2 linked regions of the Homo sapiens genome follow. The protein of the gene in region 1 purifies or fractionates together with the protein of each later gene. This does not show direct contact. Each region holds a gene or a part of one and is shown on either strand. Other genes may lie near its edges.

The links. Proteins that work in one complex are often made in the same cells at the same time.
Region 2: the proteins of DNASE2 (region 1) and RRM1 fractionate together in Homo sapiens (co-fractionation; one large-scale study listed by BioGRID). This does not show direct contact.

What each region holds. Positions count from the first base shown.
Region 1 is NC_000019.10:12,878,467-12,882,917, reverse strand, and holds the start of DNASE2 (deoxyribonuclease-2-alpha precursor), read left to right. Parts: upstream 1-1,468; 5' UTR 1,469-1,542; coding exon 1,543-1,628; intron 1,629-1,765; coding exon 1,766-1,946; intron 1,947-2,037; coding exon 2,038-2,116; intron 2,117-4,083; coding exon 4,084-4,248; intron 4,249-4,338; coding exon 4,339-4,451.
Region 2 is NC_000011.10:4,122,258-4,126,147, reverse strand, and holds part of RRM1 (ribonucleoside-diphosphate reductase large subunit), read right to left. Parts: intron 2,966-3,890; coding exon 2,764-2,965; intron 1-2,763. UniProt on the Homo sapiens protein: Provides the precursors necessary for DNA synthesis. Catalyzes the biosynthesis of deoxyribonucleotides from the corresponding ribonucleotides.

The sequences.
Region 1 (4,451 bases):
CCAGGAATGACCAAGCAAGGGCAGTTTGGAGATTAAAGGCAAGATGGAGTTGGTTAGGTCAGAGCTCTTTCACTGACATAATTTTCTGTCATAATTTTTGCAAAGGCAGTTTCAAGCCAGTACTCAGATTCCCATAGCCCTTTGCCCTGCCATGATCCTTTGAGGCTGAGGTGGGAGAATCACTTGAACCCCGGAGTTCCAGAGCAGCCTGGGCAACATAGTGAGACCCTCATCTCTGCAATGAACAATTATCTGGGTGTGGTGGCACAGGCCTGTAGTACCAGCTACCTGGGAAGATCTCTTGAGCCCAGTAGGTTGAGGCTGCAGTGAACTGTGATGGAGTCACTGCATTCTAGCCTGGGTGAGAAACCATTATCCTGTCTCAAAACGACAAAAAACAAACATACAGTCACCTCTTTGCTAGCTCAGGGGATCCTGGAGAAAACGTGCAGAATGAAAAAGGAGAGTCTGGGTGGCGTGGATTACATGCCTGTAATCCCAGCACTTTGGGAGGCAAGACAGGTGGATCCCTTGAGCTCAGGAGTTCAGCCTGAGCCACATGGTGAAACCGTGTTTCAAAAAAAAAACTACAAAAATTAGCTGGGCATAGTGGCATGTGCCCGTGATCCCAGCTACTCGGGAGGCTGAGGTGAGAGGATCACTTGAGCTGGGGAGGCAGAGGTTGCAGTGAGCCAAGATTGCGCCACTGCACTCCGGCCTGGGCAACAGAGCGAGATATTGTCCGGGAAAAAAAAAAAAAAAAAAGGAAGGAAAAAAAAAAAGAAAGAAAAAGGGGAAGATACACTGGAACACAAATGCTTCTTAAGGGGCGCAGTGGCTCACTTCTGCAATCTTGGCACTTTCGGGGGCCGAGGCTGGTGGATCACGAGGTCAGGAGTTCGAGACCAGCCTAGTCAACATGGAAAAACCCCGTCTCTACTAAAACTACAAAAATTAGCCGGGCGTGGTGTCGGGCGCCTGTAATCCCAGCTACTCGGGAGGCTGAGGCAGGATAATCGCTTTAATCAGGAAGGCGGAGGTTGCAGTGAACCGAGATCGTGCCATTGCACTCCAGCCTGGGCGACAAGAGTGAAACTCCGTCTCAAAAAAAAAAAAAAAAAAAAAAAAAAAAAAAGAGGAAGAACAAAGGTCCCAAGAGTTGGACCCAGGTTGTAGGGCTGGAATAAAAAATAAAATACAAACTTGTGCCTGATCCAGAAACCCGGGCGGGAGTTGGGTCAGACAGAAGAGCGTGGGCTGGGATTAGCTACCACGAAAAGGAACGGTGGCCAGGCTCCAGGAGACGCTGGAGCGCCGGGCCCGTCGTGGGCGTGGTCTGGGCAGACTCAGCGTTGCCTTTTGCCTCTCCAAAACGCAGCATCGCGTCTCGGGGGAGGAGTCTGTACCCTCGTGATGTCCCCGCCCCGGTTCCCAGGCAAGTTTAGGGAAGTGAAAGGCGCCAGGTGCCAGTCCTGGCCTCTGATGTAACCCAGCGCCCCGCAGTCCCGACACAGATTCCTGGATCTCAGCCCCATAGCAGCTATGATCCCGCTGCTGCTGGCAGCGCTGCTGTGCGTCCCCGCCGGGGCCCTGACCTGCTACGGGGACTCCGGGCAGCCTGTAGACTGGTGAGTGCGCAGCGGGGGGCCTACCATCGCCCCGGGGTCCGGCTGCGGTCACTCAACCGGGATGGCTACCTCCTCGGGGAACCCTGGGGTGCCTTCTCTTCCCTCTCTCCTATTTCTGTGCATTCTCCGACCTCCAGGTTCGTGGTCTACAAGCTGCCAGCTCTTAGAGGGTCCGGGGAGGCGGCGCAGAGAGGGCTGCAGTACAAGTATCTGGACGAGAGCTCCGGAGGCTGGCGGGACGGCAGGGCACTCATCAACAGCCCGGAGGGGGCCGTGGGCCGAAGCCTGCAGCCGCTGTACCGGAGCAACACCAGCCAGGTGAAGGGGGCCCCGGGCCAACTAGGGGCGAAACTCTAGGGCTGCCCTGCCTGGGAGGAATTTCACGTTGCCTCCGTTTATCCGCCCGCAGCTCGCCTTCCTGCTCTACAATGACCAACCGCCTCAACCCAGCAAGGCTCAGGACTCTTCCATGCGTGGGCACACGAAGGGTGAGGCCTGGATTGGGGGCTGGGGAGAGACTCGGGTCCCATTTTTCCAAGGTAACCCCTGACGTGCATGGGGTGGTCGGGGAGATCTGCACTGTCAGACCCTGGGCATCTATTCCCCCCAACTTTTTTTTTTCTTTGTTTTTGAGACGGTGGGAGTTCGCTCTGTCACCCAAGCTGGAGTGCAGTGGCACAATCTTGGCTCACTGCAATCTCTGCCTCTGGGGTTGAAGCAATTCTCCTGTCTCAGCCTCCCAAGTAGCTGGTATTAAAGGCGCACCATCACACCAGGCTAATTTTCATATTTTTAGTACAGACGAGGTTTCACCATGTTGGCCAGGCTGGTCTCGAACTCCTGGTTTCTACCTCAAGTGATCTACCCGCCTTGGCCTCCCAAAGTGCTGGGATTACAGGAATGAGCCACCCTGCCCAGCCGAGTTCCTATGCATTTTTCCAAGCTAACCCCTGACCTCCATAGTGGGGTGGGAGATCTCCCCTGTCAGACCTTGGGCATCTATTTCCCCTATTTTATTTTCTTTTAGACAAGGTCTCACCCAGTCACCTAGGCTGGAGTGCAGTATCACAGCTCACTGCAGCCTTGACCTCCCAGGGCTCAGGTGATCCTCCTACCTCAGCCTCCCAAGTACTGGGCCTGCCGGTACCCCCCACCACGCCTGGCTTTTTTTTTTTTTTTTTTTTTTTGCGGCACTCTCTCTCCATCACCCAGGCTGGAGTTCGGTGGTGCAATCTCAGCTCACTGCAATCTCCATCTCCCCAGTTCAAGCGATTCTTCTGCCTCAGCCTCTGGAGTAGCTGGGATTACAGGTGTGCGCCACCATGCCCAGCTAAATGTTGTATGTTTTAGTAGAGATGGGGTTTTACCAGGTTGGACAGGCTGATATTGAACTCCTGACCTCAGGTGATCCACCTGCCTTGGCCTCCCAAAGTGCTGGGATTACAGGCGTGAGCCACCACACCTGGCCTACTTTTTGTATTTTTGTAGAGTGGGCTTTTGCCATGTTGCCTAGGCTGGTCTCTAAGTCCTGGTTCAAGCAATCCACCCACCTTGGCCTCTTAATGTGCTGCGATTACCGGCATGAGCCGCCACACCTGGCCTGTTTCCCTACCTTACATTACTCTTGGCGTTATTCTGGACTATAAGAATTTATGCCTGCAAAAACTGAGCTCAGCTGTGGTTCTAACACTGCTGGCACCCTCTCTAAGCCCCGCTGCAAACTGAGGGTGTTCCTGATTGCAGATGAGCTTGCTGGGAGGCCTGGAGCAATACCCTCTAATTGCCTTTTTTTTTTTTTTTTTTTTGAGAAGGAGTTTTGCTCTTGCTACCCAGGCTGGAGTGCAATGGTGCAATCTCGGCTCACTGCAACCTCCGCCTCCTGGGTTCAAGTGATTCTCCTGCATCAGCCTCCCGAGTAGCTGGGATTACAGGCATGCACCACCATGCCCGGCTAATGTTGTATTTTTAGTAGTGATGAGGTTTCTCCATGTTGGCCAGGCTGGTCTTGAACTCCCGACCTCAGGTGATCCGCCCTCCTCGGCTTCCCAAAGTGCTGGGATTACACTGCGTGGGGCCTGCCTTCTTTTTTTAAATTTTTATTTATTTATTTATTTATTTATTTATTTACTTACTTACTTACTTATGTTTGAGATGAAATTTTGCTCTGTGGCCCAGGCTGGAGTGCAGTGGTGGATCTCAGCTCACTGCAACCTCCACCTCCTGGGTTCAAGCGATTCTCCTGCCTCAGCCTCCTGAGTAGCTGGGATTACAGGCGTCCACCACCACGCTCAGCTAATTTTTGTATTTTTAGTAGAGATGGGGTTTCGCCATGTTGGCCAGGCTGATTTCTAACTCCTGACCTCAGGTGATCTGTGTGTCTCGGTCTCCCAAAGTGCTGGGATTACAGGCGTGAGCCACTGCGCCCGACCTCCCCTAATGCCTTCTTTTGGTCCAGGTGTCCTGCTCCTTGACCACGATGGGGGCTTCTGGCTGGTCCACAGTGTACCTAACTTCCCTCCACCGGCCTCCTCTGCTGCATACAGCTGGCCTCATAGCGCCTGTACCTACGGGCAGACCCTGCTCTGTGTGTCTTTTCCCTTCGCTCAGTTCTCGAAGATGGGTAAGTCGAGTCAGGGACACAGGATGAGTCCTGGGTTTACTGACCAGAACCTGGAACGATCTTGCATTTCCTCCTCCCCTTGTCCTCCAGGCAAGCAGCTGACCTACACCTACCCCTGGGTCTATAACTACCAGCTGGAAGGGATCTTTGCCCAGGAATTCCCCGACTTGGAGAATGTGGTCAAGGGCCACCACGTTAGCCAA
Region 2 (3,890 bases), on another chromosome or scaffold:
GGATCTCAATTTGTGATTTCTGAAAAAGCTCTTCCAGTGATTTCTCCACTACACGAGGCAGTGAGCTTCTTCACACAAGGATCATCTTATTTATATTTATATGTTTAGCACTAGCAACACATCTGGCACACAGTAAGTCTTGATAATGTTGAATGAATACACTTTCTTTTCCATTTTGATTATGACTATCCCAAGCCAAAGTCTTAACTTCTCTCACATGGACTACTGAAAGTTTCCCAGTTGAACTCTTGATGCCCTTCACATCTACTCCATTCTACACATGTTGCCAAATACCCATTTTTTTAAATATAGCTTGAATCACAGAAGTCTAATAAATGCCAGGAAGAAAAATAGGCAGGAAAAGAAGACAGAGAGTACTGGGGATAAAGATGAAGGGGGTATAATTTTTAAACAGAATTGTCAAGAAGGACCTCATTGAAAATGTTACATATGAACAAAGAACTGAACAGGTTAGAAAGCAAATCATGTGGCTATGGGAAGAGGGGGTGCATTTTAACATTCAAGAGGGAAGAAGGAGCAAAAATCCTGAGGTAGGAGCATGGTTGACATGTTTGAGAAAAAGCAAGAAAATTAATAGGGTTGGAGCAAAGTGAACAAAGGGGAAAGTAACCGCAGATGAGGTGGGTTATCCAGTTGTGTAGGACCTTGTAGGGCACTGTAAGAACTCTGGATGGAAAGGAATGAAGTACTGATACATGCTACAACATGAATAAAAGAACATGTTAAGTGAAAGAAGCCTGACACAAAAGGCCACATATTATATGACTCCATTCCTATGGAATGTCCACAATGTCCACAAATCTAGAGACAGAAAATATATTAGTGGTTGTCAAGGGCTGAGGGAAGAAGGGAACAGGGAGTGACTGCTAATGGATAAAGGGTTTCATTATCTACAGTGATAAAAATGTACTACAGGCCGGTCACGGTGGCTCACGCCTGTAATCCCAACACTTTGGGAGGCTGAGGTGGGCGGATCACGAGGTCAAGAGATTGAGACCATCCTGGCCAACATAGTGAAACCTCGTCCCTACTAAAAATACAAAAATTAGCTGGGTGTGGTGGCACGCGCCTGTAGTCCCAGCTACTCGGGAGGCTGAGGCAGGAGAATCGCTTGAATCCAGGAGGCGGAGGTTGCAGTGAGCCGAGATCGAGCCACTACACTCCAGCCTGGTGACAGAGCAAGACTCTGTCTCAAAAAAAAAAAAATAAAATAAATAAATACTACAATTAGATAGTGGTAATGGTTGCACAGACTTGCAGATATACTAAAAAAAAGAAAAGAAAAGAAAAGAAAAAAAACACTGAATTGTACATTTTAAAAAGAGTGAATTATAGCTCAATTTGCAAAAAGAAAGAACTCTGTTGAGGTTGCAGTGAGCCACAGCCCAGCTTGGGCAACAGAGTGAAATCTTGACGCCCCCCGAAAAAAAAGGAATTCTGCATGGGTTAGCAAGCCAAAGAGTAGTTTTGTGCAGACAAATGACATTATCTGATTTTTATTTTAAAAATGTCACTCTAGCCTCTATAATATAATCTGTCTTGCATAATAGTTACCTCAATATATGTCGATGTCTTCCAACTAAATTAGAAGTTTCCAGAGGGCAGCATATTTATTTATATTCTCAGAGCACTTAACATTGTGTTTTACATATAGCTACTGCACAATAAATTTTGAATTAAACTGTAACCTTAGCAGTATATTTAACTCACTTTCCATTTACTTCCTGACTTTTCATTTGTCTTTTTTTTTAAGGTCCTAGAATTGAGGATCTACTCCTTCCTCGTTTCCATAGTTTACATCCAAGATCAAAGCAGCCTGTCATCCAACTAGTACAACAATCTCCCTAGGCTAACCTCTAATCCCTTCTCACAGCAAGACACTCTGTAACCAGAAGCAAGAACCTTCCTTTTCATCTTAACATTTTGATGCTATTTTCCTCTCAGAAACCTACAAGGGCTACCTATCCGTGACGTGTCAGCTTCTACCTTCTATCTCCCTTCCCCCAGCCATAGCCATCTCTCCATATTCCAATAATTAATCTACTTGCACCATCAAAACAGACTTACTTGCCACACTGCATAAAACCCAGCCCTGTCTCTGGTGTATCATACAGACCACTCTTTCCAAATGGAAAGCTCCTCTCTCAAACTTTTTTTTAAAACACCAAATCCATGTCCCATTTCTAGCCTTGATTCTTCTGTGAAGTCTCTTTACAGACTTGAGATTAGAATTTGATCTCACCATTCACTGAAAGGACTCTCTTTATAAGCTTACATACTTTTGTTGTTGTTGTTTTTGGTTTTTTGTTTGTTTGTTTTGAGACAGGGTCTCACTTTGTCGCCCAGGATGGAGTACAGTGGCACAATCTCAGCCCACTGCAGCCTCCACTTTCCAGGCTCAAGGCTTACATAGTTTAAATTGAATGTACATCCTAACACATTTTTGTGTGTGTCCTAAACTAACATAACTGTATATTTCTATTTTTCTTGAGTAAATGTTATTACAGTGATGTGTGTATAAGAAAAAACTGTGTCTTTCCCACACGGCTTAGACTAAAAAACATTTATAGGCACAGATCATACCCTTTCCTTCCTTTGCTCTCTGCCTTTAACAGTGTTCTTCTGCTTACAACTATGCAAACTCCCTTCACTTATCTCAAGTGAAATCAAGTGAGGAATTCACAAATAATAACTGCCTAAGGTTCTCTTCTTAGTACTCTAGGAAGAATTTTTTCTACCTACCTCATCTTTGCTGGTGTACTCCACTATTTCTGTGCACAGGTTGCTGCATTTGATGGTTCCCAGGTTCTGCTGGTTGCTCTTTCGATTACAGGAATCTTTGTAGAGCATATACGGGGTGCCTGTTTCCGTCTGAGACTCAATGATGGCATACCAAAGCTGCTGAGCTTTTACAACTTTGCGGACACGACCTTGTTTCTCATAACTGAAAGGCACAGATAATATTATTTAATATATATTCCCTAAAAAAACTTTATTGTAGACAACTTGAAGACATTAAAATATAAAGTTATGAAAACTCTTAAATTTTCTCTAAGTTTTGCTAAAGAAAAAAAGGAATATGATATTTATTTTACTCTAGCTAAAGCCATAGGGGAAAATGAGGCAGTTTTAGGTGCCTTCAGATGATCGCAATCCCACTAAACCAATAATATCTTTCATAATAAAAAGGAGTAAAAACTAAGGAAGCCAAATCTCTTAAGACTGTGCTAAATTTTTTTCCTTTTTTTTTTTTTGAGACGGAGTTTCGTTCTATCACCCAGGCTGGAGTGCAGTGGCACAATCTCAGCTCACTGCAACCTCCACCTCCCAGGTTCAAGCAATTCTCCTACCTCAGCCTCCCAAGTAGCTGGGACTACAGGTGTGCACCACCACGCCCAGCTAATTTTTGTATTTTTACTAGAGACAGGGTTTCACCATGTTGGCCAGGCTGGTCTTGAACTCCTGACCTCAAATGATCCACCTGCCTCATCTTCCCAAAGTGCTGAGACTACAGATGTGAGCCACTGCACCTGACCTATTTAATTTTAATAAACTACTGACATATGTGTCCTAGTCACTCATGATTCCTTTATGCAACATAAAGCATAGCTTATCAAAAGTACTATATGACAGAGCAAAATAATAACCCTACTAGTCATCTTAAATTTTAAAAGGATCAATTAAAAATCCCAAGAACCTATTTATACATTCCAAAGTTTTAAGAAAGAAGAAGACACAACTCAATTTTGGTGAAGAGTCAGGAAGCAAATCTGACCAAAATTATTAGTCACTTTTTCTCTTAGATGCTTCAAAAGATTCTTGACAAGTACTTTTGATATTTGGACCCCTGAAATAAGAGAAACCATGAT